2 separate regions of the Homo sapiens genome follow, and region 2 is linked to region 1. The links come from fine-mapping of genetic effects on gene expression. A gene starts in region 1. The other region holds a variant in brackets. All regions are shown on one strand. Distances are from middle to middle. Region 1 holds the start of NATD1 (N-acetyltransferase domain containing 1). Region 2 overlaps TMEM11-DT (TMEM11 divergent transcript).

Region 1 (15,526 bases):
CTACTGTGTCCCAGTAGGGTTTGGGCTGCAGGGCAGGCAGCAGCGAACAAAACTGATGAAACTCTTCCTCATGGAGATCTTACGTACTGATGAAGACACACAATAAGTAATATCATTATAAATAATACAGGGGCCAGGCACGGTGACCCACTCCTATAATCCCAGCACTTTGGGAGGCCGAGGTGGGTGGATCACCTGAGTTCAGGAGTTCGAGACCAGCCTGGCCAACATGGTGAAACCCCATCTCTACTAAAGATACAAAAATTAGCCAGAAATGGTAGCGGGTGCTTGTAATCCCAGCTACTTGGGAGGCTGAGGCAGGAGAATCACTTGAACCCGGGAGGCAGAGGTTGCAGTGAGCTGAGACCGCATCATTGCACTCCAGGCTGGGCAACAAGGGCAAAACTCCATCTCAAAAAAAAAAGAAAAAAAAAAAAAAAGCTGAGCATGGTGGTACACACCTATGGTCCCGGCTATTTGGGAGGCTGAGGCGGGAGAATCACTTGAGCCCAGGAGTTTGGGGCTGTAGTGAGATATGATTGTTATCACTGCATTCCAGCCTGGGTGACAGAGTGAGACCCTGTCTCTAAATAAATACATACATCACAGAGGCCACACAGGTGATAAGCTGACAGGTGCCAAGGATCACTATACAGCAGAGGAGGGGTGGGGAGGGGCAGGGCTGCCACTGTAAAGAGGGCATACAAGGACCCCAAAGGACATGTGGGGTATGAGCCGCCCACTGGTGAGAACAGCACGTGCAAAGGCCCTGGGGTAGGAGGTTGAAGGAAGAGCAAGGAGGCCAGAGTGGCTGGGCCCAAACAAGCCGGGAGTGAGGGTTGGGAAACCAAGTCAGAGATCCTGGGGCCAGACCACACAGGGCCCTGCAAGCCACCAAAAAAACCTCAGCTTTTGCTCCAGCAGTCTCTGCAGAGCAGGGAGGTGGATACAAGAAGCCTGGCAAGCTCATTACTACTCCTCTGTGCACACCCTGCGTCAGTGTTTCTGGAGTAGCCACCTGGGCCATGGATGGACCTGACCCTGGGAGTCCTCAGAACTTCTCTGCCTCCCATTGACCCTCAGTGATCGCACAGCTCAGCCACTACCATATTCCAGGCACCCAGCTCGGCGTAGACACCCAAGAAATGTTTGTCCAACTAAAACAACTGCTTTCTGTCTTTGCCAGACACACACTAGGGCCTTGTGGCAGACCTGTGGACAACTGGCTGGACCAGCATGCTGGCCTTCCCACAGCCAGGCCTGCACCTCAGGCTGTGGCTCCCAGGAGACAGCAGGACAGAAGCGGTGGTGGCCCAAGCGTGTGCAGCCCCAGCACAGGGCAGGCTCGTGCTCTGCTCTCTCCACACAACGATCCTCACAACCATCCCACTAAACACGATTCTCACAGCCCCATGTACAGATGGGGAAACCGAGGCCCAGGAGGGAGGAAGGTGGTGGTGATCATCCCGGGACAGGTCAGTTCTCTGGGGCAGAGAGGTGTCGGGACTGGGGTAAGATCACCTGGCAGAGTTGAGACTGGAACTGAGGGCCCTGCCCTGCCCTAAGCTTGCTCCTGTGGCTCCCAAGTGACAAGTCCTGCCCCCCTGTGCTAGTCTGAGGTCTGGAGCTCTCAAGGCAGCTCTTAGAGCCTAGCCCAGATAAGGGCCTATGGCCTGGACCAGGCCTAGAGGCTATGCCTGTGTCACTGTGAGCCGAGACAGCAGGATCCACAGTGCCCAGAAGTGAAAGCGTGGCTGACAGTGCTACCCTGGTGTCCTGCTGTCCCGTCATGGGTGCTGCGGGCAGTCAGGGGAGGCCTCTGGGCAGGTGACGTTTGGGCTCACCTGGAATGAGAGTCACGGAGGTGTATGGAGTTGACTGGGGATAGGGCTGAGTCAAAGGAGGGTCTTCAGGCTGAAAGGGGAACAGAGGGCATCTGGGGTGGCCACGGTGGTGGTGGGGCTGTATGTGAGGAAAAGACCGAGTTTAAATGGACACCCTACATGGGCCAGACCACATGGCACTGGGCCAGCGAGGAGCCAGGCTCCTGGGCAGCAACCTCGGAGCATCTGGCCAGGACCTGAACCCCACCTTGGAGGGCCTTCAAAGGCCACCCAGTCACAAGTGTTACACCCATGACACAGGCCACAAATGCAATACCGGTCCTCACGCTCAACTCCTTGTCCTGCCCCAAACCTGCCTGGACATCCCAGGAAAATGCCCAAGTCCCCAAAGCTTGACCAAGGTCCTTGGCTCCTCCTCACCTTTTCTCATCTGACCTGACCCTCGGCAGGACCGTGGACATGGCTTTCTAAACATGCCTGGGGTCCAGCTGCCTCTCTGGCCTCCCTGCCTTGGTGGCTGCTCCCCTGCCTGTCACCTTTCTGCCCAGGGCCTCCGGGGACCCTTCCTTCTCATTTCAGGTGAGCCCAAAGGTCACGTGCCCAGAAGCCTCCCCTGACCACCCGCAGCCCCCATGATGGGACAGCAGGACACCAGGGTAGCACTGTCAGCCACGCTTTCACTTCTGGGCACTGTGGATCCTGCTGTCTCGGCTCACAGTGACATAGGCATAGCCTCTGGGCCTGGCCCAGGCCCTTATCTGGGCAGCTCTAAGAGCTGCCTTGAGAACTCCAGACCTCAGACTAGCACAGGGGGGCAAGACTTGTCACTTGGGAGCCACAGGAGCAAGCCTAGGGCAGGGCAGGGCCCTCAGTTCCAGTCTCAACTCTGCCAGGTGATCTTATGCCAGTCCTGACACCCCTCTGCCCCAGAGACCTCACCTGTCCCTGGATGATCACTACCACCCTCCTCCCTCCTGGGCCTGAGAACCCCACCAGCATCACGTGACTGGTTTGGGAAAAGTTAAAGCTACACTGCTCGTGGGGGACCCGTCCCTGGGTCTCTGCACCCCCATGCTCTCTCTGCCCCTCCTGAACCTCGGGACCAAAGGGGGCCAGGAAATTGTCAGGGGAGGCGATCACAGAGAAAGACCAAAGCTTGCAGACAGGGGACAGGGGCAGGACCTCTGGGAGATGTGGAGTCTGCAGAAGACATTGACCTCTGCTTTCTCCACTCGGCCCACACTGACCCCGCAAGGAGAGCTGGCAGATCAAAACGCGAATATACAGATGAGGAGACTGAGGTAGACGGAGGCAGAGCCCAGGCGCCAGAGCTGTGGCACGGGACAAGGACAAGCAGACACCCTGGCCGGCTTTTCTGGCACCTCTGTAAGTAGAGCCTGGATCAGGGAGGTGCCACATGTTGGTGGTTCATTGGTAGATTAGGCAGAGGGAGCTGTGAGCCTGGAGAAGCTCAACCATACGTCCCTCCCCTCCCCAGAGGACCCTGGTCCAGCCCAGCCCAACACAGCCAGCGGCCTCATATTGGGGCTGTGATCTGAGCACCTCCCAAAGCCTGGGGCTGTGATCTTAGCTCCACTGCATCCAGGGGTGCTGAGGGAGGCCAGGGGCAGCAGCTGACTCTCTGGGGCCTCAGTCTTCCTGGCTGCAAAATGGGGGTTAGGGAGGACGCAGAAAGTTCCAGGGTTCTGCACCCCTCAAGTGTTCCTTTCCTTGCAGCAAGTGGGACACTCAGCCCTGCCTGTGAGGGAAAGGGAAGGCTAAGGAAGGGGCTGCCCAGGAGGTGGGGGTCTCTTCCAGCTGCCTCCAACCTTCAGAAACCGTCCTCAGATGGAGGCCGGGGGCTTGATTCTGGCTTAGCTGCCTACAGGCTGTGCGCCTTGGTTTCCCCATCTATAAAGTAATGACAAGCTTGCATTTCAGAACCAGGATATGGCATCAGACAAGCCTGAGCTCAAGCCTTCCCTCATCACCCACAAGCAAGTCACAGCCATGCTTCCTTCCACATCTGTCCAGGATCTAGACGTTTCTCCCACGCCTGTTTGCAGTGCCTGGACTAGTAAAGTAACCACCTCCCTGCTCTGTCCTGGTCCCCACAGTTTGCTCCCCTTAGAGCAGCAGCTAGAGGGAGCTGGGGCATCCCATCTGTCTTCTGCTCAGGACCCTCCTGGGAGCCTCAGAGTCAAAGCCGAGCCCATAGGACAACGGCTTCCAGGCCCTGCACCACCTGCTCCCCATGACCTCTTGACCCATCCTGCACACACAAGGCATCGCAGGCACTGCAGAGCCTTTGCTCTTGCTATTCCCTCCACTTGGAACACTCTTCCCTGTTGCAGCTCTGTTTCTTGCCTCCTTCAGGTCTTCACTTAAATGCCACCCTCCAGGGAGGGGCCTTCCTAGACACATGATTGTAAATAGCAGCCCTGCCCAACACAGCCTCCCCTCTGCCCCCTGCACCTCTCATGAAAGCCCTTGTTTTCCAGGATACTTTAAAACTGACTCTATTTCTTGTCCATTTCCCTCTCTAAACTGTCAGCCCCAGGAGACCCCGACACCTAAAAGAGTGCTTGGTACATGGTAGGTGCTCAACAAATACTTGCGGGGTGAATCACAGCTCTTCCACCTCTGTGGTGCAAGACTTTGGGCAAGTCATTTCACTTCCCCATGCCTCAGTCTCCCCATCTGTATATGGGAAATGCAGTTTCCCCTCTCCCTGTGGTGTGTGGCTATGAAATAAAGTGACTCCAGGTGCCCAGGGCCTCCTAGAACACTGTAAATGCTTAATAAACAAAGGTGCTCAAACGTTTTCCCTCACTCAGAACCAGAGCTCGCAGGAAGAGAATCAGCCTAGCTGTGCTATGTGGACAGCCTAGGAACACTTCTGCACCAGGAGCCTGGGGCTACCTGACCCCTCAGCCTCAGTGTTTATATCTCTCAGTGGGCACAACAGCACCAGCCTCCAGGCTTGCCTTACAGGTCGGGAATGACACCACAGCCTGTTGTCCTCCTCAGCTCAGGGAGGCCTGGGCTCAGACTCAGACGACCCCTCTCTGGTCCCAAGACACACACCCAAACCCAGTGGGGCCTGGAAGCCCAGAAGAGCCCCACCCTGTGCTGCACAGCCACTCCCTTGGGGGCCTCTGGCCTCTCTCTTCTTTCTCCCCTGGGCTTGGCTGGGGAGATGCCCAGCCACATCTGTGGTCAGCTATCTGGGCAGTGAATTCCAGAAGGGGGTAAGTTTAGAAATACGGCTGGGCATGTCCAGCCCTGACCACGGCCAGCTCTGGAGGGCTGTCCTTTGGCTGTACCCACTTGGAAGAGAAAGAAAAAGAAAAAAAAAAAAAAAAAACAAACGTATCCCCTCTTCTTTCTGTCTCTGAGTATAATGGCCCTCCCGAGCCCACAAGGGAACCAGAGGCCGCTCTGGAACCTCAGAAGAGAGGATTTGAAAGCCATGAGGCCTCTCTCCCAGAGTCGCCAGGGCCCCGAGTGTCCTGGCCAGCTGAGCCCTGCCAGCACCACAGCAGTAGCAGGACTTGCCTCTGCCTGGTGGTGTAGGGTTGGTTGGGCCAATGGTGAAGTTCTGGGTGATGCTGGGCAATCACTTCCTAAGGTCCCTAGCCTCAGTTTCCTCATCTGTAACACGGGGTGGTATGTCACAACATTGTCAGGGTATTGTGACAGTCCCATCCACGAAGCTGTAGTGGGGCCTGGCTCGACACTCGGCACATTCCAAATGGCATCGGAGATCTGGCAGAGGCCCCTCCTGGCTGAAGCCAAATGTGGGTCGCAGGAGCCCCACCGTTCAGGGAGTCAGACCAGTCAGGACGCCATCCCAGCTCTGCCCAACTCTCAGCCTGACCTCTCGCAAGCCTTTCCCTTTCCTGGCCCTCCACCTTCCCTTCTTGAAAATGGGCACAGTGGCCCCTAAGGACCGGTCCAGCTTGGACATTCCCACTGGGGCGAGGTGGGCCACAGGGAGTTCATAGCCCTTGTTTTTGTAGTTCTATTTCCTACCTGTGGGACCTCCTGAGGGGGGATGGGCTAATCAAAACTTCTCTACACTGGCAGGGCGTGGTGGCTCACTCCTGTAATCCCAGCACTTTGGGAGGCCATGGCAGGTGGATCACCTGAGGTCAGGAGTTCAAGACCAGCCTGGCCAACATGGTGAAAGCCTGTCTCTAATACAAAAATTAGCTGGGCATGGTGGTGGGTGCCTGTAATCCCACCTACTCCTGAGGCTGAGGCAGGAGAATCACTTGAACCCAGGAGGCAGAGGTTGCAGTGAGCCGAGATTGTGTCACAGGAACATTGTGTCGCCTGGGCGACAGAGTGAGACTCCATCTCAAAAAACAAAAACTTCTCTACACTAAGGGAGAACTTGCCCTTGCTTTCTGGCTTCACGAATCACGATCGGGCCACGTTTACCAGCACTTACTAATCCCCCATGAGCTGGTCTGATCCTTTACATTTGTTACAGTCTTTCATCCTTACAACTAGCCAATGGGGTGTGCACTGGTATTATTCCCATTGCAGAGAGGGAGAAACTAAGGCACACAGAAGTGAGGCAAATGGCCAGTCCCAGAGCCACTGAAGTCTTGATAGTGATAGCCATCCCCCCGCCCCTCACTCCCCCCAGGGGACCACAAGCCCCTTTCGCGGTCAGCCCCAGGTCCGCAGGCCTCCCCCGTGTAGAAAGACTAAGATTCCCAGGGGCAGCAGGAAGCCATATACCACCCGCAGAAGGGGACAGGTCACGGCTGACCAACTTTCCAGGATCTCAAACAGGAGCCTTCAGTGGGTGCCCAACAGTCGTGAACAAGTGGGCCTGAGCAGGTGCGGGTCCCCTGCGGCTGAGACAGGGGACCCGCGCTGCCCCAGCTCCTGCCTCTGCCTTTCCAGGGGCCCCTGTCCGCCCTGGCCCCTGCTCTCCCGGGAAGTCTGCCCCCGCCCAGCCCGTTCCACTTCCCGGAGCGCCGGCCGCGCCCCCACCTGGCCCCGAGCACAACCCGGCCCGCGCCCGGAGCTCCGGCCGCCCGGGACCACCCCGCGGCGCGCGCTTGCAACAGCCTTCCCGGGCGGCGGGCCGGAGCCGGGCCGCGGGCGCGCGGGGGACAGGCACCCAGCAAGGGGGCGGCCCCGGCGGGCCCCGCTCGCTCGCAGACAAAAGGTCGGGGCGGGCCGGGGCCGCCTTACCGTTGAGCCGGACAGTGAACTGGCGGCGCCGGCGGTCGTGCTCCACGCGGATGGGGCAGCCCTGCTCCAGCGCGCCCAGCGGCACGGCGGCAGCCGAGTGCGCCATCTGCGCGCGGGGCTGCGGCGCGGCGCCGGCGGGGGCCGGGGCGCGCGGGGAAAGGTCAGGCGCGCGGCGGGGCTGGAGCGCGGGCGCAGGCGGCAGGCGGTGGGGTAGTTACGGCCTGGGAGACCGCAGGCGGCGGCGCTGAAAGTGACACTCGGCGGCGGCGGCAGCAACAAAAAGGGTGGGGGGGGGGCCAGGAAATCAGCTGTGAGGTCACGTGCGGCGCGCAGCCAGTGGACGCGCGGCCTTTTTGTTTTGATACATTCCAGTCACCTCTTAAAGGGGCCGCGCCGGCCGCGTTCCTCTCGCAGCCCCAAACAAAACAACACGGGCCGCCGCCGCGCCGCGCCGGCTACTTTTCCGTCTTGCGTTTGTCCCACGTGCAACTTTGGGACCCCCGCAAGGAGCCTTCTAAAAAAGACGTAACAATCTTTTGTATGGACATTCTAATCGTCCCCAAGGCAGCCACCATTTATTAAGCACTTGCTGTGTGCACGGCCTGTGTATAGCAAAGCCCTGGCGCACAGGGCGCTCAGTAATCACTGCGCTGAGATTTATCACCAGAAGCCTGAGAAATAGGTATGCTTGACTCCATTTTACAGATGAGCAAATAGAGGCTAAGACAAGTGAAAGACATGCATAAGTTCTCACGCAGCTGAAGCCCTGGGGCTACTGGTGCTAGGAGTGCGCACCCACCCGTGTTGGCAGCCTGGGTGGCTACTGGCTACTGGGAAGGAATTGTCCTGTGAAGCCTTGTTTGGGATAGGAGTGAAATGCCACCTCTCCCAAAGAGAGGCGTAAATGCGGGAAGAGGCCTTGGGGATCCCTGGATCCACTCCATAGATGGGGAGGCTGAATCCCAGAAAGGGGCAGGGACTTGCTTGAAGACACACAGGACTGTTGGGGCTCAGACTTCTTTGAAAGGCGCCTTAATTAGGCTCCTCAAGGCTCAACCTTAGAGCCACACCCTCCCCTCTTGCTCACCTGAAGGGGCACTCCTGTTGCCCATAGCTGTGCAGTGAATCATACAGGTTACTTTTAATATTTTGCTAATTACGGTGCAAACTTGATGTTCACACCCGTGTGACCACCATCCAAATCAAAATACAGAACACTGGTGGTTCCCTAGGGCCCTCTTCCAAGCAATGCCCTACCCTTTGAGGTAACCACTGTCCCTGACTTCTAGTGTTGTTGACTAATTAGGTTTCTCTAGACCATCATGTAAACATAATCATACAATATATACTATTTTATTTTATTTTAAGACGGAGTCTCTCTCTGTCGCCCAGGCTGGAGTGCAGTGGCTTGATCTCGGCTCACTGCAGCCTCTGCCTCCTGGGTTCAAGCGATTCTCCTGCCTCAGCCTCCTGAGGAGCTAGGACTACAGGGCTACAACAACAAGCCGGGGTAATTTTGGTATTTTTAGTAGAGACAGGGTTTCGCCATGTTGGCCAGGCTGGTTTCAAACTTCCAACCTCAGGTGATCCATCCGCCTTGGCCTCCCATCGTACTGGGATTACAGGCATGAGCCACCGCACCCAGTCCAATATGTACTTTTAATGTCCAATTTCTTTTGCTCAATATTTTATCTGTGAGATTCATCCCTGTTTTTGCATCTTTTTCGCCACTGAGTAATTATTCCATTGTGTTGACAAAAAAAGCCAAACTGTAAAATATTTGAAGAGCTTATTCTGAGCCAAATATGAGTGACTATGGCCCTGGACACAGCCTCAGGAGGTCCTGAGAACATGTGCTGGAGGTGGTCGGGTTATAGCTTGGTTTTATACATTTTAGGGAGACAGAAGTTACAGGCAAAGACCTAATACCTGTAAGGTGTACATTGGTTCGGCCATCCAGAAAGTGGTGGGGGCTTACAGCTCATAGGTGTATTCAAATATTTTCTTTTTCTTTTTTTGAAACAGGGTCTCGCTGTGTCACCCAGGTTGGAGTGCAGTGTCGCCATCTTGGCTCACTGCAACCTCTGCCTACCTGGCTCAAGCCGTTCCTTTGTCAGATATATTTACCGAGAATATCCTCTGATCCTCCCATCTCAGCCTCCCAAGTAGCTAGGACCACTGGAATGGGCCACCACACCCGGCTAATATTTTTGTATTTCTTTTAGAGATGGGGTTTCACCATGTTGCCCAGGCTCAGGCGATCCATCCGTCTCAAACTCCTGACCTCATCCACCTGCCTAGACCTCCCAAAGTGCCGGGATTATAGGTGTGAGCCACCCTCACCTCGCGCCCCCACCCCACCCCCCCAATTCAAAGATTTTCTGATTGGCAAGTGGTTGAAAGAGTTAAGCTTTTCCTAAAAAGAGTTGATGTCAGAAAGAAATACTCGAGTTAAGATAAGGAGGGGTGTGTGGAAGCCAAGGTTCTTATTATGTAGATGAAGCCTCTAAGTAGCAGGCTTCAGAAAGAATAGATGGTAAATGTCTCTTTTAGGACTTTAAAAGGTGTCAGACTCTTAGTCAAATCTCTCCTTAATCAGAAAAAGACCCAGAAAGGGAGGGGGATTCTCCACACATGCAAATTTCCCCCACAAGAGATGGCATTGCAGGGCCATTCCAAAATAAGTCGAATAATATATTTTTGGGTAAAATTCGTTAATTTCCTTCGGGGCCTGTTATCTGTCATGCGATGCTATACCAGAGTCAGGTTGGAATTTGTTATCTTAGTGCTACAAAGAGTCTGTTTTGGGTCGGGCGCGGTGACTCACGCCTGTAATCCCAGTACTTTGGGAGGCCAAGGCAGGCGGATCATGAGGTCAGGAGATCGAGACCATCCTGGCTAACATGGTGAAACCCCATCTCTACTAAAAATACAAAAAAATAATTAGCCGGGCGTGGTGGCGGGCGCCTGTAGTCCCAGCTACTCCGGAGGCTGAGGCAGGAGAATGGTGCGAACCCGGGAGGCAGAGCTTGCAGTGAGCAAAAAAAAAAAAAAAAAGGAAAAAAAGAGTCTGTTTTGTCAGTCTAATTATATATATTTTATGGGTTTTTTTTTTTTTGAGACGGAGTTTCACTCTTGTTGCCCAGGCTGGAGTGCAATGGCACGATCTTGGCTCACCGTAACCTCTGCCTCCTGGGTTCAAGCGATTCTCCTGCCTCAGCCTCCCGAGTAGCTGGGATTACAGGCATGCACCACCACGCCCGGCTAATTTTGTATTACAGCGTGCTACCATCCTGGGCTAATTTTTTTCAGTTTCATAGAGTTGGGGGCCTCTCTGTGTTGCTCTGGCTGGTATCAAACTCCTGGACTCAAGTGATCCTCCTGTGTTGGTCTCTCAAAAAGTGCTGGGTTTACAGGCATGAGCCACCATACCTGGCCTTTGCTGGATCTTATAGTAGGTGTATATTTAGTTTTGTGAGAAATTGCCAGAGCTTTTTCCAAAGCGGGTGTACCATTTTACACTCCTGCTGACAATTTTGAGAGTTTCATTCGTTGTACACTCTTTTCCAAGTTAGCCATTCTGAATGTGAAGTGGCATCACATTGTAGCTCTCACTTGCGGCGGCCTGTTGAATGGAGATGTTGAGCCTCTTTTTATATGCTCCTTGGCCATTTGGATATCCTGTTGTGAACACTTTGGCCAACTGTTGTGCCACAGTTTTTGTGGCGCAAATTTAATTTTTTTAATTTTTAAATTCATTAGAGTGATTTTTGTTGTTCAGTTACCATTCCTTTGTCAGATATATTTACTGAGACTAACCTCTGCTAGCATATTTTTATTGTTATTTCAACCAGTGTGTCTTGTATTGGGAAGTTTGTAAACAAAACAAGGCTAGAGAGTGAGTCTTTACATGCAAGGAGACAGAAAGTGATTCTGGGGTCAGGTAAGTCCTTGACCTCAGCTGAGTCATGTTGGCTGCAGTCCTGAGCAAGCAAGATGTAACCTCATGAGTGTCTCAGGTGACTTCTCCATCTCCAGAGCACTTAAGTGGTTTAGGGAGGCCAGAACGTGTTCCTGAAATCTCTTTTTTTTTTTTTTGAGACAGAGTCTTGCTCTGTCACCCAGGCTGGCGTGCAGTGGCGCAATCTCGGCTCACTGCAAGCTCCGCCTCCCGGGTTCACGCCATTCTCCTGCCTCAGCCTCCCAAGTAGCTGGGACTACAGGCGCCCGCCACCGCGCCTGGCTAATTTTTTTTGTATTTTTAGTAGAGACGGGGTTTCACCATGTTAGCCAGGATGGTCTCGATCTCCTGACCTTGTGATCCACCCGCCTTGGCCTCCCAAAGTGCTTACACGCTTGAGCCACCGCGCCTCCTGAAATTTCTTGAACCGGCCATACTCGTTCCCTCCTCTGGGCCTATGCATGTGCTGTTGTCCAAACATCACCTCCTCTGGGAAGCCCTCATCTCTGCAGTCACATTTATTTAGTGTCTGTTCCCCAGCTATCCTAGATCCAGGACAGATTCCTCTCTCATCAGTCCCTGGCAGAGCCCAGCACACACCAGGGCCAGTTAAAAGCCAGGGTCTTCCTTGTCTCTGGCTCCCTTTCTTCTCCCCTGCTTTTGAATATACTTAGCTTACTGGCATCTTTTCACCTTGCAGAAATCCCTTCTGGAACAAGGATAAACAAAAGAACCAAGTGAGCATTTACTGTCTGCTGAGTCAGTGGATGTGCTCTGCCTCCCTACCCTGGGGAAGCAGTATGTGCCGAAACCCGGCCATGTGGAGACCAGGTTGTAGACGTAGGATATCATTTATTCAGTCAGTCATCAGTTCATTTAGCAAATATTGGATGCTTACTGCATACCAGGTACTGTCATAAGGAGACCCAACAGTGAACAAAACAAAAAACTCCCTGCCCTTTAGGAGCTGATGCTCTAGTTGGGGGAGAGACAATAAGCAAAGAAGAAAATAATGATCTGGCCGTTCACATGGCCCAGTGGGAGATTCAGCAGGGGGCAGGGGCGTGCTCCTGGAGGAGGTCATGGTTTCAGATTGGGTGGCCAGGACAGACATCAGCTGATGTGGAGTCTTTTATGAAAGGCTTGAAGGAGGGGTCGGGGTGGTGGCTCACGCCTGTAATCCCAGCACTTTGGGAGGCCCAGGTGGGCAGATCACCTGAGGTTAGGAGTTTGAGACCAGCCTGACCAACATGGAGAAACCCCATCTCTACTAAAAATACAAACATTAGCTGGGTGTGGTGGCACATGCCTGTAATCCCAGCTACTCGGGAGGCTGAGGCAGGAGAATCGCTTGAACCCAGGAGGCGGAGGCTGCAGTGAGCCAAGATTGTGCCACTGCACTCCAACCTGGGTGACAGAATGAGACTCGATGTCAAAAAAAAAAAAAAGACTTAAAGGAAGTGAGGGAGTGAATCAGGTGGTATAGGGGGAAGGGCAGAAAGAGTGGCTGTGCAGAGGCCTTGGGGTGCGTTTCCAGAACACAGGGAAGCCAGCGTGGCTAGGACAGAGAGACCCTGGAGGACAGGGGATGAGACCAGAGGTCCTGCAGGCGGATTGAGGGGACTTTGGCTTGGACTCTGATCTGGGAGGGATTGGGGCATGATCTTGTCAGAGGCGTTTGAACCAGAGTGACTCCATCTTGTATAGGGGCTGGGTAAAATAAGGCTGAGACTTGCTGGGCTGCATTCTTAGTAAATTAGGCATTTTAAGTCACAGGATGAGAAAGGAGGTCAGCACAAGATACAGGTCATAAAGACCTTGCTGATAAAACAGTTTGCAGAAGACCGGGCGCGGTGGCTCATGCCTGTAATCCCAGCACCTTAGGAGGCCGAAGCAGGCGGATCACGAGGTCAGGAGATTGAGACCATCCTGGCTAACACGGTGAAACCCCGTCTCTACTAAAAATACAAAAAAAAAAAATTAGCCCGGCGTGGTGGTGGGCGCCTGTAGTCCCAGCTACTTAGGAGGCTGAGGGAGGAGAATCGCTGGAACCCGGGAGGCGGAGCTTGCAGTGAGCCAAGATCGAGCCACTGCACGCCAGCCTGGGCGACAGAGCGAGACTCCGTCTCAAAAACAAAACAAAACAGGTTGCAGTAAAGAAGCCAGCCAAAACCCACCAAAACCAAGATGGCAATGTGAGTTACCTCTGGTCGTCCTCACTGCTCGTTATGCACTCATTAGGATATATTAGCATGCTAAAAGACACTCCCCCACCAGGGCCATGAGGGTTTACAGATGCAATGGCAATGTCTGGAAGTTACCCTGTGTGGTCTAAAAAGGGGTTTAGCTCTAGGAATTGCTCACCCCTTTCCTGGAAAACTCATGGATAATCCACCCGTTGTTTAATATAAAATCAAAAAACTATCCTTAGTCCAGCAGCTCAAGCTGCTGCTCTGCCTATGGAATAGCCCTTCTTTTATTCCTTTACTTTCTTTTTTTTTTCTCGAGACAGAGTCTTGCTCTGTCGCCCAGCCTGGAATGCAGTGGCGTGATCTCGGCTCACTGCAGCCTTTGCCTCCCGGGTTCAAGCGATTCTCCTGCTTCAGCCTCCTCTGAGTGGCTGGGATTACAGGCACGTGCCACCACGCCCAGCTAATTTTTGTATTTTTTTATGTCTCTTTTCAGTATATTGCATGAAGGAGTTACACTAGTCCAAGTTAAAAACCGGACCCCAAATGGTTACATTGTACAAGCTATGAGGTTTTTAAACTTGTGACAAGGGACGGAAGGGAAATTTTACTCATTGCAGGCAAATCCTCACTTAAGCTTCAGTGAGCCACAAGCACTTAAAACCCATGAACCTTCAGCTGATCGTCCTTAGCCAGTCCAGTCTCTATGAGGAACTGGCATATGTTCTTGTGTTGGTCACCCTATAGCTGAAGTACTTCTCCATATTCCGGATGCTCAATTACAGCACCATTGCAGGCAAACTTCTTTTTTATTTTTTATTTTTGAGGCAGAATCTAGCTCTGTCGTCCAGGCTGGAGTGCAGTGGCGCGATCTCAGCTTACTGCAACCTCTGCTTCCCGGGTTCAAGCGATTCCCCTGCCTCAGCCTCCCGAGTGGCTGGGATTACAGGTATCCATCACTACGCCCAGCTAATTTTTTGTGTTTTTAGTAGAGACGGGGTTTCACCATATTTGCCAGGCTGGTCTCGAACTTCTGACCTCGTGATCTGCCCGCCTCAGCCTCCCAAAGTGCTGGGATTACAGGCGTGGGCCACCGCGCCTGGCCTTTCTGTTGAATTCTTATATGGATATAATCCTCAGTGCTAGCAAGAAACAGGTCATCAGCCTTACTTGCATCAGCAAAGGGGTCTGAAAAGAAAGGTTAAACTGCGCCGGGCGCAGTGGCTCACGCCTGTAATCCCAGCACTTTGGGAGGCCGAGGCGGGCGGATTGCCAGACCTCAGGAGTTTGCAAAGCTCAGATGCCACTGCCACTGCCATCCCCCCTAGATGTTTTGTGCGTGCAGAAAATAACACTGAAATCATCAGGGCTTGGGCCAGGCCGAATGTGTCCTTTGCTGGCTCTCCTGGAGCAGGTCAGTCCGGGACAGCTGGCTTCCCCAGGCTCAGGGAATGCCTGGGCCTTCCGCCCTGCCTGGGAAGCTGATCACGTCTAATATTTGTATTCTTAGTAGAGATGGGGGTTTCACCATGTTGGCCAGGCTGGTCTCGAATTCTTGACCTTGTGATCCGCCCGCCTTGGCCTCCCAAAGTGCTGGGATTACAGGTGTGAGCCACTGCGCCCGGCCTATTCCTTTACTTTCTTAATAAACTTGCTTTCACTTTACTCTGTGGACTTGCCCTGAATTCATTCTTGGGTGAGATCCAAGAACCCTCTCTTTGGGACCCATTTCCAGTAACAATCTTAGTGTTTTTGGTTTTTTTTTTTTCCCTAATTTTAGAAAACTTCAAAGATATATGTAAATATATACAATAGGAAAATGAAGCCCATGTACCTGTATCGTGGCTGAGGAGTTTGGTTTTCTTTTCATTAAAAAAAATTAAATGTACTGTTTATGGCTGGGCATGGTGACTCATGCCTATAATCTCAGCACTTTGGGAGGCCGAAGTGGGCCAATCACTTGAGGCCAGGAATTCAAGACCAGCCTGGCCAACATGGCAAAACCCTGTCTCTACTAAAATTACAAAAATTAGCTGGGTGTGGTGGCATGCACCTGTGGTCCCAGCTAATTGGGAGGCTGAGGTAGGAGAATTGCCTGAACCCAGGAGGTGGAGGCTGCAGTGACCTGAGATGGCGCCACTGCACTCCAGCCTGGGTGACAGAGTGAGACTCTGTCTCAAAAAGAAAGAAAGAGAAAAATTTAATGTACTGTTTATATGCAGTAAAAATTCTTTCTTTCAGCATGCTCTGCAAGTTTTGACAAACATATCTAGTCATTTAACCATGACCACTACCAAGTTATAAAACAGTTTATCATC
Region 2 (15,526 bases), 30 kb before region 1:
AAGTACCTGGCCTTCCTGTTGAGTCATACAGCCCTGCCTCCAAGTGTCAGCGTAGTTCATGCTGGAGACCTCTTAACAGTTCCATGGTATGACACTGCGGATATGGCTGTCTTTTCTTTGTATCAGTGTGGTGATTCAGAGGGTATACTAGGGATTCTAGAACGCACTTCTGGCTCAGGGGCTGCTTGTGTAACTTCTGTTTCTCAGCTGCCTGGTTTGTATCATGGGATGATAGTATCTCCCCTCAGAGGATTGCGGTATTTCATGAGGTGATACGTGTATGGAGGCCAAGTGCTGTTTTATATTTTAAGTGATCTACATCTTGATTTTCACAACAACTGTATAAAAGTGATACTGTTGGCCAGGTGCGTTAGCTCACGCCTGTAATCCCAGCACTTTGGGAGGCCAAGGCGGGTGGATCACCTGAGGTCAGGAGTTCAAGACCGGCCTGGCCAGCATGGTGACACCTCGTCTGTACTAAAAATACAAAAATTAGCCGGGCATCGTGGCACACGCCTGTAATCCCAGCTACTCGGGAGGCTGAGGCATGAGAATCATTTGAACCCGGGAGGTGGAGGTTACAGTGAGCTGAGATCGCACGACTGCACTCCAGAATGGATGACAGAGCAAGACTCTGTCTTAATAATAGTATCACTTTTTTTTTTAATCAACAATCTCATTTTGTAAATGAGGAAATCAACTTACAGACGACCTGAGTGACTTGCTCACACTGCCAGCCAGGAAAGTGCTAGGATTTGAGCCCAGACTGTCCAGTTACAGAGATTACACTCTGCCATTGTGCCTCTCCAGAAGCACTGGAGGTAGGTCTAGTGCATAGAGTAAATGTAAATGCTGAAACAACTGTGGCCCTAATGAACATCCCATTTCTCCAGCTTTTTACTCTCCCCTTAACTTCTGAATGACCGTCTGCTTCTAATCTGCCAACTTGGTCTAAGATCCTCACGGTGTTTCCTCCTGATTACTGTTAATGCACGGAGGTTGTCTGGAAGGTTCATAGGCAGCCTGATTGACTCAGTATGTATTAGCTGAGCACCTTTGGAGGGCACAGCCTGAGTGGTGGGAATTAGTTCCTGGGGGCTGTCCTGCGGTGGAGACTCCCGTGAGCCCTCTGTCCTGCTGTATGAAGGCAGCCAGTGGAAAGGCATGTCCTCGCTGGTGCTCAAAGTAATCTGCTACTTCTCTTACTACACTTTTCATTCATTCATTCTTAAATCGTTGAAGGCATACTCTGCAGGTACTCTTGGGCACAGAGATACGGTGTTTAGTAAGACAAACACTGTTCCTGGGTCTTAACGGGCTTTACATTCCAATGGGATAAACAACTTAAGTAAATATTTTCAGAGAGGAGTACCAAGAAGAAAAGGAACAGGATGATATAATGGAGTGACTTGGAGATCACAGGTGGTAAGAGGTCACTCTAAAAAGGTAACATTTGAAGGCTGGGCACAATGGCTCACACCTGTAACCCCAGCACTTTAGGAGGCTGAGGAAGGAGGACAGCTTGAGTCCAGGAGTTTGAGGCCAGCCTGGGCAACATGGGGAGACCTTGACTCTACAAAAAATTTAAACATTAACTAAGTATGGTGGCACGTGCCTGTAGTCCTAGCTACTGGAGAGGCTGAGGTGAGAGGATCTCTTGAGCCCAGGAGTTTGAGACTGCAGTGAGCTATGTTTGTATTACTACACTCCAGCCTGAGGGACAGAGTGAGACCCTGTCTCTTAAAAACGAAAACCCGACTGTATCAAAAGGTAACATTTGAGTGGGACTTGAAAGAGTGTGCATGCGAAGGACTGAAGACAGAATGTTCTGTGCAGAGCGAATTAATGCAATGGCTTTGCAGTGCAGATGGGCCTGGGGTGGTCCAATAAGGTTAGGACCAAGGTGGCTGGAGCATCATGAGACAAGCGTGGTACTTAGCTTGCCTTTGGTTAAGTCACTTTCTCTATTTGAATTTCAGTTTCTCACCTGTAAAATATGAGTAATTTTATCTGTATTAGCCAGTGTGTAATTAGAGGAAAAACCATTTAATACAGGGTATTGTTTACAAAGGTGTTGGAAGGGCATGAGAAACAAGGGGAGAACAAGGGCACCCAAAGCCTGACCCCCACAAGGCTAGAGGAGCAACAGGAAAATTCGTTTCCAGAGACTGATTCCTCAGCTGCTGAGCAGGAGCCTGGAGCCACACTTGCTGCCTGGTACTACTGACACACAACTGGAACCACCGCTGTGGCCTGGGGTGCCACCAGAAGCCAGAGATTAGAATTGCTTTCCCCATCTCATATCTTCCAAACTCCCACCAGTGCCTCCCACTGGCTGAGTCAGATGACAAGGGAGTCTGGGAAATGTAGTTGTTTGGCTTCCAGCCCTGACCATGGAGAGTATAGAAAGGCAGGTGTAGGGGAGAAAATAGATGCCATTCACACAGCGCCTATCTTGCAGGGCTGTTTTGAGGAGTAAAAACTCAGCCTATTTTTATTCCTCATAGCATGTAGTAGCATTCAGGGAAAGGCAAATCTTCCAAAACAATATCTTAGGTATAATAGTTCTACATAAAGGTTTGAATTTACCATTAAAAGCATCAAAATGAGCATTTTAAAAGTAGAATTTTAAGTCTGAATGGGCAGTATATTCACATGGTATAAAATTCAAATTACAAAACAATATACAGTGAAAAATAAGGGGGTTTTTTTGCTCATCTTCTTGTGACCTGGCTCTTTCCATCTCTGTCCACAACCCTCTGCAGGCAATAACTGGTACCTTTGTTATGGATCCTCTGCAGATATAAAGTAGACATATATTAACAAATGTTTTCTTTGGCCCAGAGGATGCATATTATGCACATTCCTCCATTTCTTGTTTGTTTTTGTTTTTTCCACTTAATTGTATCTTGGAGATCACTCTGTATCAGTATATATCTGATTTGTTTTAGCAGTACATGATAATCCATTGTTTGGATATGCCATAATTGTATCAGCCAGTCTCTGGACAGTCTTTTACTATTTCAAGGAGTGCTGCAGTAAACATGTTTGCGCCACTTCCTGGTACCCATTGCAAATAAAACTGGGATAATTTCCTGACGAGAACTTGCTGGGTCAGAGTGTAGGCACTTGTTGTTTTGATAAATATTGCCAGACTACACCCCACTCCCTCCAGCAGTACATGACACTGCCTATTTCCCCACAGCTGTGCCAGCATGGTCTGTTAGCAAGTGTTTTCTTTTTGCAAATTTAAAAGTGGTATCTCGCTAAATGCAATATGGTAGCAGAGGACATTTGTGGAAAAACAGGTGAAATCTGGGCTGGGTGTGGTGGCTCATGCCTATAATCCCAGCACTTTGGGAGGCCGAGGCAGGCGGATCACAAGGTCAGGAGTTCGAGACCAGCCTGGCCAATATAGTGAAACCCCGTCTCTACTAAAAATACCAAAAAAAGTTAGCTGGGCATGGTGGTGCAAGCCTGTAATCTCAGCTACTCGGGAAGCTGAGTCAGGAGAATCGCTTGAACCTGGGAGGCGGAGGTTGCAGTGAGCCAAGATCATGCCACTGCACTCCAGCCTGGGTGATGGAGTGAGACTCTGTCTCAAGAAAGGAAAAAAAAAACAAAAAACAGGTGAAATCTGAATGGGGTCTTGAGTTCAGTTAATAGTAACTGCCAATGTTGGTTCTTAGTTTTGACACATACCATGACTATGTGAGATGTTAATGTCAGGGGAACCAGGATGAAGGCTATACAGAACTGTACTATTTTTGCGACTTCTCTGTACATCTAAAATTATCCTTAAAAAGGTTTCTTTAAAAAATGACATCTTGTTTTCTGTAAAATTTGAATTTCTCATGAGTGAAATGGAACGTTTTGAATATGATGCTCTTTTTAAAAGGTGGCCTTAATAATTTGTATTTACTAAGGAAAAAAGTCAGAGTTTATTTACTTTAAAAAAATTCAGGCCGGGCGTGGTGGCTCATGCCTGTAATCCCAGCACTTTGGGAGGCTGAGGCGGGCGGATCACGAGGTCAGGAGATCAAGACCATCCTGGCTAACATGGTGAAACCCTGTCTCTACTAAAAATACAAAAAATGAGCCGGGCGAGGTGGCAGGCGCCTGTAGTCCCGGCTACTCTGGAGGCTGAGGCAGGAGAATGGCGTAAACCCGGGGGGTGGAGCCTGCAGTGAGCAGAGATTGCGCCACTGCACTCCAGCCTGGGGGACAGAGCGAGACTCCGTCTGAAAAAAAAAAAAAATTCATTAACAGTACATTTAAAATTTCTGTTACTGGAGATTGTATTTCTCATTCCATCCATTAATGTGCAGCTTCAATGTTTTCCCCCAGATATGCAATTTCACTTACAGGATCTTGTTCTTCAGTGACATGTCATAAGAGTTAATAATTCCACAAGCCACCCTGCACTGCTGTGATCCTAACAATATTGAAAGGTTGGTGTGTATCCTTTCCTACCTTTCCTCATTCTAAAATGTTTCCTCGTTCTAAATGCCAAGCTGGTTTTGAACAACTGACCTCAGGTGATCCACCTACCTTGGCCCCTCAAGGTGCTGGGATTATAGGCATGAGCTAACATGCCCAGCCCTAATCTGCTCTTCTTAGATGGATACTTGTCAGATTGGGTTAAGACCCACTCTCATGGCCTCATTTTAACTTAATTTTCTCTTTAATAAAAGTCCAAATGCAGTCCATTCTGAAGTACTGGGAGGTTAAGATTGTGTTATTTGAATTGAAGTGAGGGTGAGGGGCAGGGGCACACAACTCAGCCCATAACACGTAGGATTAAAAAAATTCTTCGGGTCCGGGGAGGTGGCTCACACCTATAATCCCAGCACTTTGGGAGGCCAAGGTGGGAGGATCACTTGAGCCCAGGAACTGGAGGATGCAGTGAGCTATGACTGCACCACTGCACTCCAGCCTGGGTGACAGAGTGAGACCCTGTCTCAAAAAATAAAGTGAAGCCTCAGCCTCAGCATACAGTGAGGCAGTGTGTGTGTGCAGTGAATCGAAGTTCCAGTCATCATTACTTCATTTCAGGGCTCCACACTGCCATCTGGGCATCCCCAGGCCTCTCTGGACTGGCCCTGCCCCACCCTCATGGAGGTAGCCTTTACCTGGCAGGCACCTCAGAGGCTGGTCCTATATGTCACATCATTGAGATAAAAAGAAATCCAAGGCTGGAAGCAGTGACAAATGGTGTGGACTTGGTGGAAGTTGCCCAGGGAGATGGATGAGAATGGTGACATCACACATAGCACGGCTTTTTCTCCAAAATCCCAGGACTTACCACAGTGGCCACACTCTGTCTCTCACCTGTTCACTTTCTTCTGCTCGCTCGCTCTCTCTCAGCCTCCCCTGTCCCACCTTTTCCATATGCGAAGACTCTCCCCCAGCACCCCTGTGGTGGTTTAAAAGCATGGCAGCAAACTCCTCGGCATTCCTTCCTTCAGGGTGGTGCCTAAGTCCCCTCCCAGGGAATCTGAGTGGGCCTATAACTGCTTCAGTCAGCAGGGTGTAGAGGAAGTGATGCTGAATGACTTTTAAGGTTGGCTCCTAAAAGGCCATAGAGGCTCTGTCACTGGAGCTCCCTGTGCTGTGATGGAAGTCTGAAGTCTTAATGCTGAAGAAGCCCAAGCCATGTGGAGAGGCCAGGTGTCAAAGCTCTAGTGAGCATCACAGCTGAGCAGGGACAGGGCCCTCTGCTTCTTGTGGAGCCCTCTCTAGATTCCCCACACACAGAATCCACAAGCAGAATGAAGTGGCTGTGATTTGATGCCCCTGGTTTCCTTGTTATGCAGCAGTAGATCACTGAAATCAACCCCCTTCTAAAGGCCTCTCTGCAGACATTCTCCACTTGGTGAGACCAAAGCTAGCCTAACAGGGCTCAGCAGCAGAGAAGCCCAGCCATTGGCCAAAAAAGCCACTGGCTACCATGCAGCCAGGATGTCCTTGGGGAGCCTTGATCTATCCCACCACATCAACATTTCCACCTCAGACATGGGAAAGGCACCAAGGTGTGAGCATGGGCAGTACTCCTAGGGAACCCCAAGCACACCCCATTGCCCCAAGATGCAAATGGAACTCCTCACTGGTCCCATAGTTTTACAATGTGAGTCTAGGAAAGCACAGATGAGCCCTCTTTTATGTTATTGTCCGCCTTGGCGGAGAATGGAAACAGCAAGAATGCTGAGCTTGTGGTGCAGACTTGGAGATGCATTTGTCACTAGAACCTTAGCGCGTGCTTGTACAACCCTGGTGGTGGAGAGATGAATGGACGAGGCCCCTCCTTTCCATAGCTCATGTGGCCAGCCCCTCATCTAAGGCAGGGGCCAAAACAGAGCAGGAATGTGGAAGGGTGGCCAGCTGTCCTGGCTTGCCTGGGCCTGAGGGGAGTCCCAGGGCATGGGATTTTTAGTTTTAATATTGGGAGAGTTTTGGGCAAACTGGGCCAAGTTGGTCACATGAGGGTGTGGCAAGCAAGGCAAAGATGGTTTGATCATTGCAGCCCCTCACTTCCCATAGCTCACTGCAGAGCCTGTGTCATCCTGACAACAACGATGTGGAAGGTGAGACATCTGGCAGCATTTTGACTTCATGAACTGGGAAACGCACATGGGTGGAGGCGCCTGCCCACGCTGCCCAGTGTCTCATGGTGGCCACAAGAGGCTGCGGCTCCTGTTGCTCAAACAGGGCCCTGTTCTTGTCCAGCATTTCCACAGCAAGGCCCCTGCTCACACCAGACACTTCCAGGGAACCCTTGGCCAGATGACAGCAGTTGCTCTGGTAGTTAACGTTATGGGAAACAGATTCTAGGAAGCGCCCATGCATCGCATCACACTTTTTCATCTCTCCTTCTGTCCATCCTTCTGCCCACTCCTAGTTAGGGCATGTGTGCTCCAGGCTGGGAGCCAGGGCAGCCTCATGGGTCAGCCCCATCCGCAAGGAACCCATGTCTGGGGAGACAGGCATTCAAGAATGAGATATTTTCAGGTGAGTGCTAGGCAGGCGATATCACTGAACATACTTAGGGGTGAGTGGGGAAGGAGGTCTACCTAGGTAAGGAGGTATGTGAGTCTGTCCTAGCCAAATACCACAGACTGGGTGGTTGAAACAACACAGTTCCTGCTCACAGTTCTGCAGGCTGAAGTGCAAGATCAAGGTGCTGGCAGATCCCGTTC[C/T]GGCTGAAGGCAGATGTCTGCCTTCTTGTGTCCCCACATGGCTGAGAGACACAGAGAGTTCTCTCCTTATAAGCATACCCTTTCTGTCAGATTAAGATGCCACCCTGTGGCCTCATTGCACCTTCGTTGCCTCCTAAAAGCCCCGTTTCCAAGTACAGTCCCATTCTGAGGTCCTGGGAGTTAGGTCCTTAACACAGGAATTCTAGGCGGACACAATTCAGTCCCTAGCACCCCCGTTCCCAGTTGGATCAAGGCCTCAAAATGAAGACAGGCTTGTCTCACCTCACCTGTCCCTCTTCTGAGAAGCTGCAAGACTGAGAGGGAGCTGGAGATAATAGGTTGATTTGGGACAAGGACACTACAGGGTGAGGACATGGCTCTGTGTCCCAAGGTTTTGGGGCAGCAGACTGGTGGAGGACCATGCTCAAGGGTTCTGAAGGGGAGCAGCTTCCTTGGCAGCCCGAGGCCCAAGACACAGAGGGCAGAGCACACAGATACGAGCTGGGGCTGGATACATTGCTGACTCTGGGTAGAAGGCGATGGAAATGAGGGTCTGACGCTATGTTCAATCCTGTCCCACCCTATGTGATGGCTGGAGGGACAAGGGAACCCCAGTAGGATGATGGATTCCTAGGGGTTGCAAAAGGAATGGGCAGGGCCAGCCATCACTGAGACAGCACCCAGGCGGTCTCGTAGGTTTTGCTTAGAGACTGTGTGCTCCACTTGCCATTGCCAGGAGAGGCATCCACCCAGGCGTCCATGAATACATGGATACACACAAGGAGGTGCAGCCACATGATACAATGTGATTCAGCTAAAGGAGAGTGGAGCTCCGGTCCATGGACCTTGCGGAGGCACCTTGAGAACATTGTTCCGGGTGAAAGAAGCCAGACACAAAATAAAATATTGTATGGTTACAACAATGTGGAAATGTCCAGAACAGGCACATCCACAGAGACAGAAACCAGATGTGTTACTGCCAGGGGCTGGGGGCAGGAGGGAAAATGGGGATGGCTTCTCGGGGGAATGAGGTTTCTTTTGGGAGATGAGAATGTTTTGGAAGTAGATAGAGGCGATGGCTGTGCCACATTGTGGATGCACCAAATGCAACTGAATTGTACTCTGAAATGATTAATTGTACATTGTGTGAATTTCACCTAAATTTAAAGAAAAAGGTGACCATGAGAGCAAAATCTGTCCCAGCCATGGAAACCCCCGGGCTCACCTGGGTACACTTAAACCGAACTCTCTGGCCCCTTGCTGGTCTACCTCCCCAGCCCAGACCAACAAATAGCAGGTCCTGGAGATATCTGGGCAGCATCCACACATCATTTCCATAGAGCACATGCCAGGGGCCCTGGCATGAGTGGGACAGAGATGAGGGAGACCACCGCAGAGAGCCACAGGATAGATACTGTGCTGCTCACAAAGGTCCTTTAAAATTTTCCAGCAGCGGCTGGGCATGGTGGCTCATGCCTGTAATCCCAGCACTTTGGGAGGCCAAGGTGGGTGGATCACTTTAGGTCAGGAGTTCAAGACCAACCTGGGCAACACGGTGAAACCCCGTGTCTACTAAAATACAAAAAATTAGCCAGGAGTGGCAGCGTGTGCCTGTAGTCCCAGTTACTCGGGAGGCTGAGGCAGGAAAATCGCTTGAACCAGGGAGGCGGAGGTTGCAGTGAGCCAAAATCACGCCACTGCACTCCAGCCTGGGCGACAGAGTGAGACTGTCTCCAGAACAAACACAATTTTCCAGTAGCAACACTTAAAAAGTAAAAGGAGGTGAAATTATGTTTTCTCTTTGAGACAGAGTCTTGCTCTGTCGCCCAGGCTGGAATGCAGTGGCGCAATCTCAGCTCACTGCAACCTCCGCCTCCTGGGTTCAAGCGATTCTTTGGCCTCAGCCTTGCAAGCAGCTGGGATTACAGGCATGTGCCACCAAGCCTGGCTAATTTTTGTATTTTTAGTAGAGATGTGGTTTTGCCATGTTGGCCAGGCCTGTCTCGAACTCCTGACCTAAAGTGATCCACCTGCCTCGGCCTCCCAAAATGCTGGGATTACAGGCATAAACCACTACGCCTGGCCTGAAGTTAATTTTAATAATATATTTTACTTAACCCAGTATATATCCAAAAAGTATCATTTCATCATGTCAATTAGAATTTATGAGTGAGACATAGGTGGGAGTTGAACAATGAGGACACATGGACACAGGGCGGGGAACATGACACACCGGGGCCGGTGGGAGTCGGGGGCAGTGGGAGGGATATCATTAGGAGAAATACCTAATGTAAATGATGAGTTGATGGGTGCAGCACACCAACATGGCACATGTATTCCTATGTAACAAACTTGCACATTGTGCACATGTACCCTAGAACTTAAAGTATGATAATAATTTAAAAAGGAATTTGAGATATTTTAACATTCTTTTTCTTTCTTTCTTTTTTTTTATTTTTTTGAGACGGAGTCTTTCTCTCTCGCCCAAGCTAGAATGCAGTAGTGTGATCTTGGCTCACTGCAACCTCCGCCTCCCAGGTTCAAGTGATTCTCCTGGCTCAGCCTCCCGAATAGCTGGGACTACAGGCACAAGCCACCACACCTGGCTAATTTTTGTAATTTTAGTAGAGGCAGGGTTTCACCATATTGGTCAGGCTGGTGTTGAACTCCTGACCTCAGGTAATCCACCTGCCTTGGCCTCCCAAAGTGCTGGGATTAAAGGCGTGAGCCACCACACCCAGCCAACATCCCTTGTCTCCCCTCCCCTCCCTTCCTCCTCCCCTCCCTCTTCCCTCCCCTTTTCTTCCCCCTTTTTGAGACAGACTCTTGCTCTGTCGCCCAGGCTGGAGTGCAGTGGTGCAATCTCGGCTCACTGCAACCTCCGCCTTCCAGTTTCAAGCGATTCCTCTGCCTTAGCCTCCTGAGCAGCTGGGACTACAGGCACGCACCACCACGGCTGGCTAATTTTTTGTATTTTAGTAGAGACGGGGTTTCACCATGTTGGCCAGGATGGTCTCGATTTCCTGACCTCGTGATCTGCCCACCTCGGCCTCCCAAAGTGCCGGGATTACAGGAGTGAGCCACTGCGCCCAGCCAACATTATTTTTCTTCATACTGACTCTTCCAAATTCTCTGTGGGGTTTTGCACTTGGAGAGTATCTCACAGATCCTGAAACCCAGGGACTCCTAGAAACTTCTCTCCAATTCTTTAGAGAGAACGCTGCAGCTCGGAGGGGCCTCGGGGGGATCTGGTGTGACTTTTCCCATTTCCACAGAGGAAACCCAGCGAAGCCTAGGGAGGTCCTAAGATGACCCTGGGGCCCCAGTGTAAGCTTGCAGCGGAGCCAGGACCAAATGCCTGTCCCACCAGCCCTCGCCTCCCTGCTAGGGCCCAAGGCGTCTCTGCTCTTCCGGATGGAGAAAGAAGCTGCCTTTTGAGGCTGCATCTCATCTTGTGGTTTGGGGTTGGAGTTGGGAGAGAATGCCTGAGAAAAGGTCAGGTGTGGTGGCTCACACCTGTAATCCCAGCACTTTGGGAGCCCGAGGCGGGCAGATCACGAGGTCAGGAGTTCAAGACCAGTGTGGCCAATATGGTGAAACTCTGTCTCTACTAAAAATACAAAAAATAGCCAGGCGTGGTGGCGCATGCCTGTAGTCCCAGCTACTCGGGAGGCTGAAGCAGAAGAATCGCTTGAACTCAGGAGACTGAGGTTGCAGTGACCCAAGATCATGCCACTGCACTCCAGCCTGGGTGACAAAGCAAGATTCCGTCTCAAAAAAAAAAGAAAAAAGAAAATGCCTGAGAAGATAGGAATTGGTGGAGATGAGGGGACACAGGTCCCCAGGCCTCCTGGACTTACATAGCCTGGGAAGGCGGAGTCAGAAGAAGGAGGATGGTATGCGGGAAGAGAGGCAAGAAAGATGCCAGCGAGGGAGAACAGCAGGGGGCATGGGAATAATTTGGGATTTGCTTCCACGGATTGGGGGGGCGACAGGTCTTAGCTTCCTGTGGCCACTGTAGCAAATGACCAGAAATGGGGTGGCTTCAAACAGCAAGCATTTGTTCAGAAGAATGAAATCAGGGTGCTGGGAGGGCCGTGTTCCCTGAGAGGCTCTGGAGAGATGCTCCCTCCCTCTCCCACTTCTGGTGGCTGTGGCCTGCCTGGACTCGTGGCCTTGTCACGCCAGCCTCTGCCTCATGGTTGCACGTCAGCCTTCTTGGTCTCAACTCTCCCTCCGCCTCCCTCGTATAAAGACACTTGGTTGGGTTTAGGGCCCACCCAGATAATCCAGGATGATCTCCTCATCTCAAGATCCTTAATCTCACTGGGTGTGGAGGCTCACGCCTGTAATCCCAGCACTTTGCGAGGCTGAGGTGGGAGGATCTCTTGAGCCCAGGAGGTCGAGGCTGCAGTGAGCTGAGATTACACCACTGCACTCCAGCCTGGGCGACAGAGCGATATCCTGTCTCAAAATAATCATCATCGTAATGAAAGATCCTTAACCTAAGTACATTGACAGATATTTTTCCAAATATAGTGGCACTCACGGGTTCTAGGAATTAGGATGTGGGCATGTCACTTTGAGGGTCACCATTCAACGCACTGCAAAGTGACAGAGTGAGAACATCAGTCCAAAAGTAAGGAGAGACCCTGTGCCATCAGAGACGGTGTATCCTGTGGAGTCATTCAGGCAGGTGACTTGGAACAGGGAGTTTCAGCGTAGTGAGCCCTTGGTGCCTGGCTTAGGAGTGAATGAGATTAGGAGGTTACAGAGGCCTTCCTAAGAGGCCCCAAGAGTCTTCCAGACCTCAGCACCCCCATCTGGAGGGGAGCAGTGGGGCCCTGTTGCCCTCACACCTGTGTCTCTATTGTCTGAAAGTTCAGTAGAAGGGAGTTCACCACCTCTGTCACCTCTGTCAGCTCCTGCCTGGGGGCCACTCTCTCCTCACCCAGACACAGGCTCCCCAGCCAGATCACTCTGGAACTTTCCCTGGCAGCTCAGAGTGGCAGGAGTCAGAGCTGTGTTGACATTGCACATTTTTGAACCTGTCTACAGCAGCCTGGGTTGGGCACAACCTGGAATTGCCCTCAGGAGCTGCCTTGGGCCTGTGCATCAGTGAGGCCAGGGCGGCCGCCTCTGTACTGACCTGCCAGTCGGCTGGCTCTTCCTGCTTCCTTCCTGCTGCTCCAGGCCTCCCAGGTCTAGCACACGTGCATTCATTGTGGCCAGGAGTCCTGCATTGAGGCTCAGGACACCTGGGTCTCTGTCCCACCTGCCCCTAACCTGTCACCCCACCTTGGGGCCTTGGTTTCTCTCCTTTAAAAAGGAGTTGAATTATGGAAGGTTTCTTCCAGCTTGGTCCTCTGTACAGGGGATTGTGCCAAGCATGGGTGGTGGGCAAGAGTTAAGGAGGAAGGTGGCTGGCTATAGTGGCTCACGCCTGTAATCCTAGCACTTTCGGAGGCCAAGGCGGGCGGATCACTTGAGGTCAGGAGTTTGAGACCAGCCTGGCCAACATGGTGAAACTCTACTAGAAATACAAAAATTAGCCGGGCGTGATGACAGGCGCCTGTAATCCCAGCTGCTCCGGAGGCTGAGACGTGGGAATCACTTGAACCCGGGAGGCAGAGGTTGCAGTGAACTGAGATTGCACCACTGCACTCCAGCCTGACTTTTTGAGACTCTGTTTCAAAAAAAAAAAAAAAAGGAAAAGGAAAAGGAAGGTGATGGCAGGTAGGGGTTTCCTGAGAGACTATGAGGGGAGCCCAGGGCCAGAGAGAGCAGGGAAGGCCCAGCCAGCGACTGCTATCTATAGAGTGGGCCAGTGCCTGTCAGGTCACTGTATCCTCCCAGCAAACTCCTATCCTTATTTGTTCTGGAATGTTCTCAGTGGTGTCTGGTGGAATTGCTCTCCTAGGTATAAGCTCAGATTGGGTTTCTGCCCATCCTGGGGTCAGCTGAGACAGGGTAGTGTGTGTTGTAGGGAGAAGCACTGAGCTGCCCTCTGACATCCTTCGGCTACAGGGACCAAAACGAGTTTAGGAAGGGTGTGATCTGATACGTTTATTCTTTTTTTTTTTTAATTTTCATTTTTCTTTTTTTTCCCCTCTTTTTTTTAGAGACGGGGTCTCGTGTTGCTCAGGTTAGAGTTCAGTGGCTATTCACAGGCATGATCTCACTGCTAATCAGCATGGGAGTTTTGACCTGCTCCGTTTCCAGCAGAGGCTGGTTCACCTCTCCTTAGTCAACCTAGTGGTCCCCTGCTCCCAGGAGGCCACCATGTTGGTGCTGAACTTAGTGTGAACACCTGATTGGCATAGCACACTACAGCCCAGAACTCCTGGGCTCAAGTGATCCTCCCGCCTCAGCCTCCCGAGTGACTGGACTACAGGTGTGCCCCACGACACCCAGCTAACCATTTTTTAATGAAAAAAAAGTGTAGTTTTCTCCATTTTTTTCATTCAAAAATCTTTCTTTCAGCTAATACTTATAAGCACCTGCTTTGTGCTAGGCTTATTTGTGCAGTAAATTCTTTTTTTTTTTTTTTTTGAGACAGAGTCTTGCTCTGTCGCCCAGGCTGGAGTGAGGAAGCCCTAATATATAATCTTCAGTCAACTGTTAATCTGGAAGCCTCACCACATTGCTTTTTGGATTAGCAGAATGCCATCCTGGGGAATCCCAGCAGAAAGGAAGAAAGGAGCACTGTCAGTCTTACTGGTCACCCCTGGCCAAGGCCCAGTCATGACCCTTCCTTCCATCTCCATTTGATCCCATCATAAACCTCAAGAAAAGTAAAAAGCATCATCATCTTAGGAAAAAGTGTGGCGGGGGTGCTCAATATGTTGATCATGTTATGGCAAGACTCCAGATTATCTCTCTTCTTCTTTTTTTTTTTTTTTTTTAGGCGGAGTCTCACTCTGTTGCCCAGGCTGGAGTGCAGTGGCGCAATCTTGGCTTACTGCAAGCTCCGCCTCCCGGGTTCACGCCATTCTCCTGCCTCAGCCTCCCGAGTAGCTGGGACTACAGGCTCCCGCCACCATGCCCAGCTAATTTTTTGTATTTTTTAATAGAGACGGGGTTTCACCGTGTTAGCCAGGATGGTCTCGATCTCTTGACCTCGTGATCTGCCCGCCTCGGCCTCCCAAAGTGCTGAGATTACAGGCGTGAGCCACCGCGCCGGGCCTTGTGCATTAAATTCTAAAAGCAACGCTCGTACGGAAATGCAGGCATTTTGTGAGCAGCGCCTGGTTCCCTCCTGGCTGTGCAGCTGTGGGGCCTGGCTGTCCTTACTCTCCAGTGCAGGTGGAGCTCCTGTGGAAAGTGCAAAGGGTCCTGTTTCCAGGGCTATGAGTGCTGTCACTTGTCACTTGTATGCTTGCGCCAGGGCACCCAGTGGGGCAGGCATGGAAGCTTGTTGCAGCAGCACCCTCCTCCCTGCCCCTGGAAACTAACATGACCTCAGCAGGACAGGCCATTTCTGGGAGGCAGCCTGTCCACATGGAACACGTTGCCATGGATGGTATGATGGTGGTCAGCTGCATGGGTCATCTGGCGCAAGACTGGCCCAGGCATCTCTGATCTTAGGGCTGACAAGCGCTGGATGAAGAGTAAGTGGTGGTCTGGGCTCTGGCCCCAGTGACATCATGCGCTTGCAGTGGCCCTGAATAGCCACCCCTGCTTCTGCGCCTTCTTTCTCTGCTTAGAAATGAGCCCTGCCATCACGCTGGACCCTTCATCCACTCAATATTTTTCTTAAGTGGGTTCATTCTTTGAACACTGAAACATATTATTTAAAAGGGAAACTGGCCGGGCGTGGTGGCTCATGCCTGTAATCCCAGCACTTGGGGAGGCCGAGGCAGGTGGATTGCTTGAGCCCAGGAGTTCAAGACTAACCCAGGCACCACAGGAAGACCCTGTCTCTACAAAATATCAAAAAATTAGCTGGGAATGGTGGTGCATGCCTGTAGTCCCAGCTACTCAGGAGGCTGAGGTGGGAGGATTGCTTGAGCCCTGGAGGTTGAGGCTGCAGTGAGCTGTGATTGTGCCACCATCCTCCAGCCTGGGAGACAGAGTGAAACTCCATCTCAAAAAATAAATATTTTATTTAGAAAAGGAAGCTCTGTGCAGCCACCTAAATGGAACACCTGTATCATGTGCAGGTAACTGCAAAAGTAAATACAATGAAGACCAAAGCCAAAATATTATAAAATTCCAGATAGACTTGGCTGCCTCCCTACATCTCGGTGCCTGGGCTCTGCATTTGTTGGAGTTAGGGGCGTGCTGGCCTGGAGCTGAGCCCTACTTCACCTACACAGGTGACTGGAAGA

What was found. PIP is the estimated chance that this variant, and not a neighbour inherited with it, causes the effect.
Region 2: its variant is the best candidate, but not a certain one, in a credible set for the expression of NATD1 in whole blood (TOPMed, PIP 0.53).

The regions. Positions count from the first base shown.
Region 1 is chr17:21,246,101-21,261,626 of GRCh38, forward strand. NATD1 (N-acetyltransferase domain containing 1) reads right to left here and starts at 7,310. Exons shown (of 3, transcript NM_152914.3): 1 at 7,059-7,310. The coding sequence starts at 7,164. It also overlaps the pseudogene EIF1P5. RefSeq lists an enhancer at 2,940-3,441 and silencers at 6,932-7,051, 7,202-7,311.
Region 2 is chr17:21,216,018-21,231,543 of GRCh38, forward strand. TMEM11-DT (TMEM11 divergent transcript) reads left to right here. Exons shown (of 2, transcript NR_184102.1): 2 at 4,348-4,716. It also overlaps the pseudogene RN7SL426P. Among named protein-coding and RNA genes, the nearest start is that of TMEM11-DT, 9.5 kb to the left of the region's middle. The variant C/T (reference allele first, on the strand shown) is at 7,197.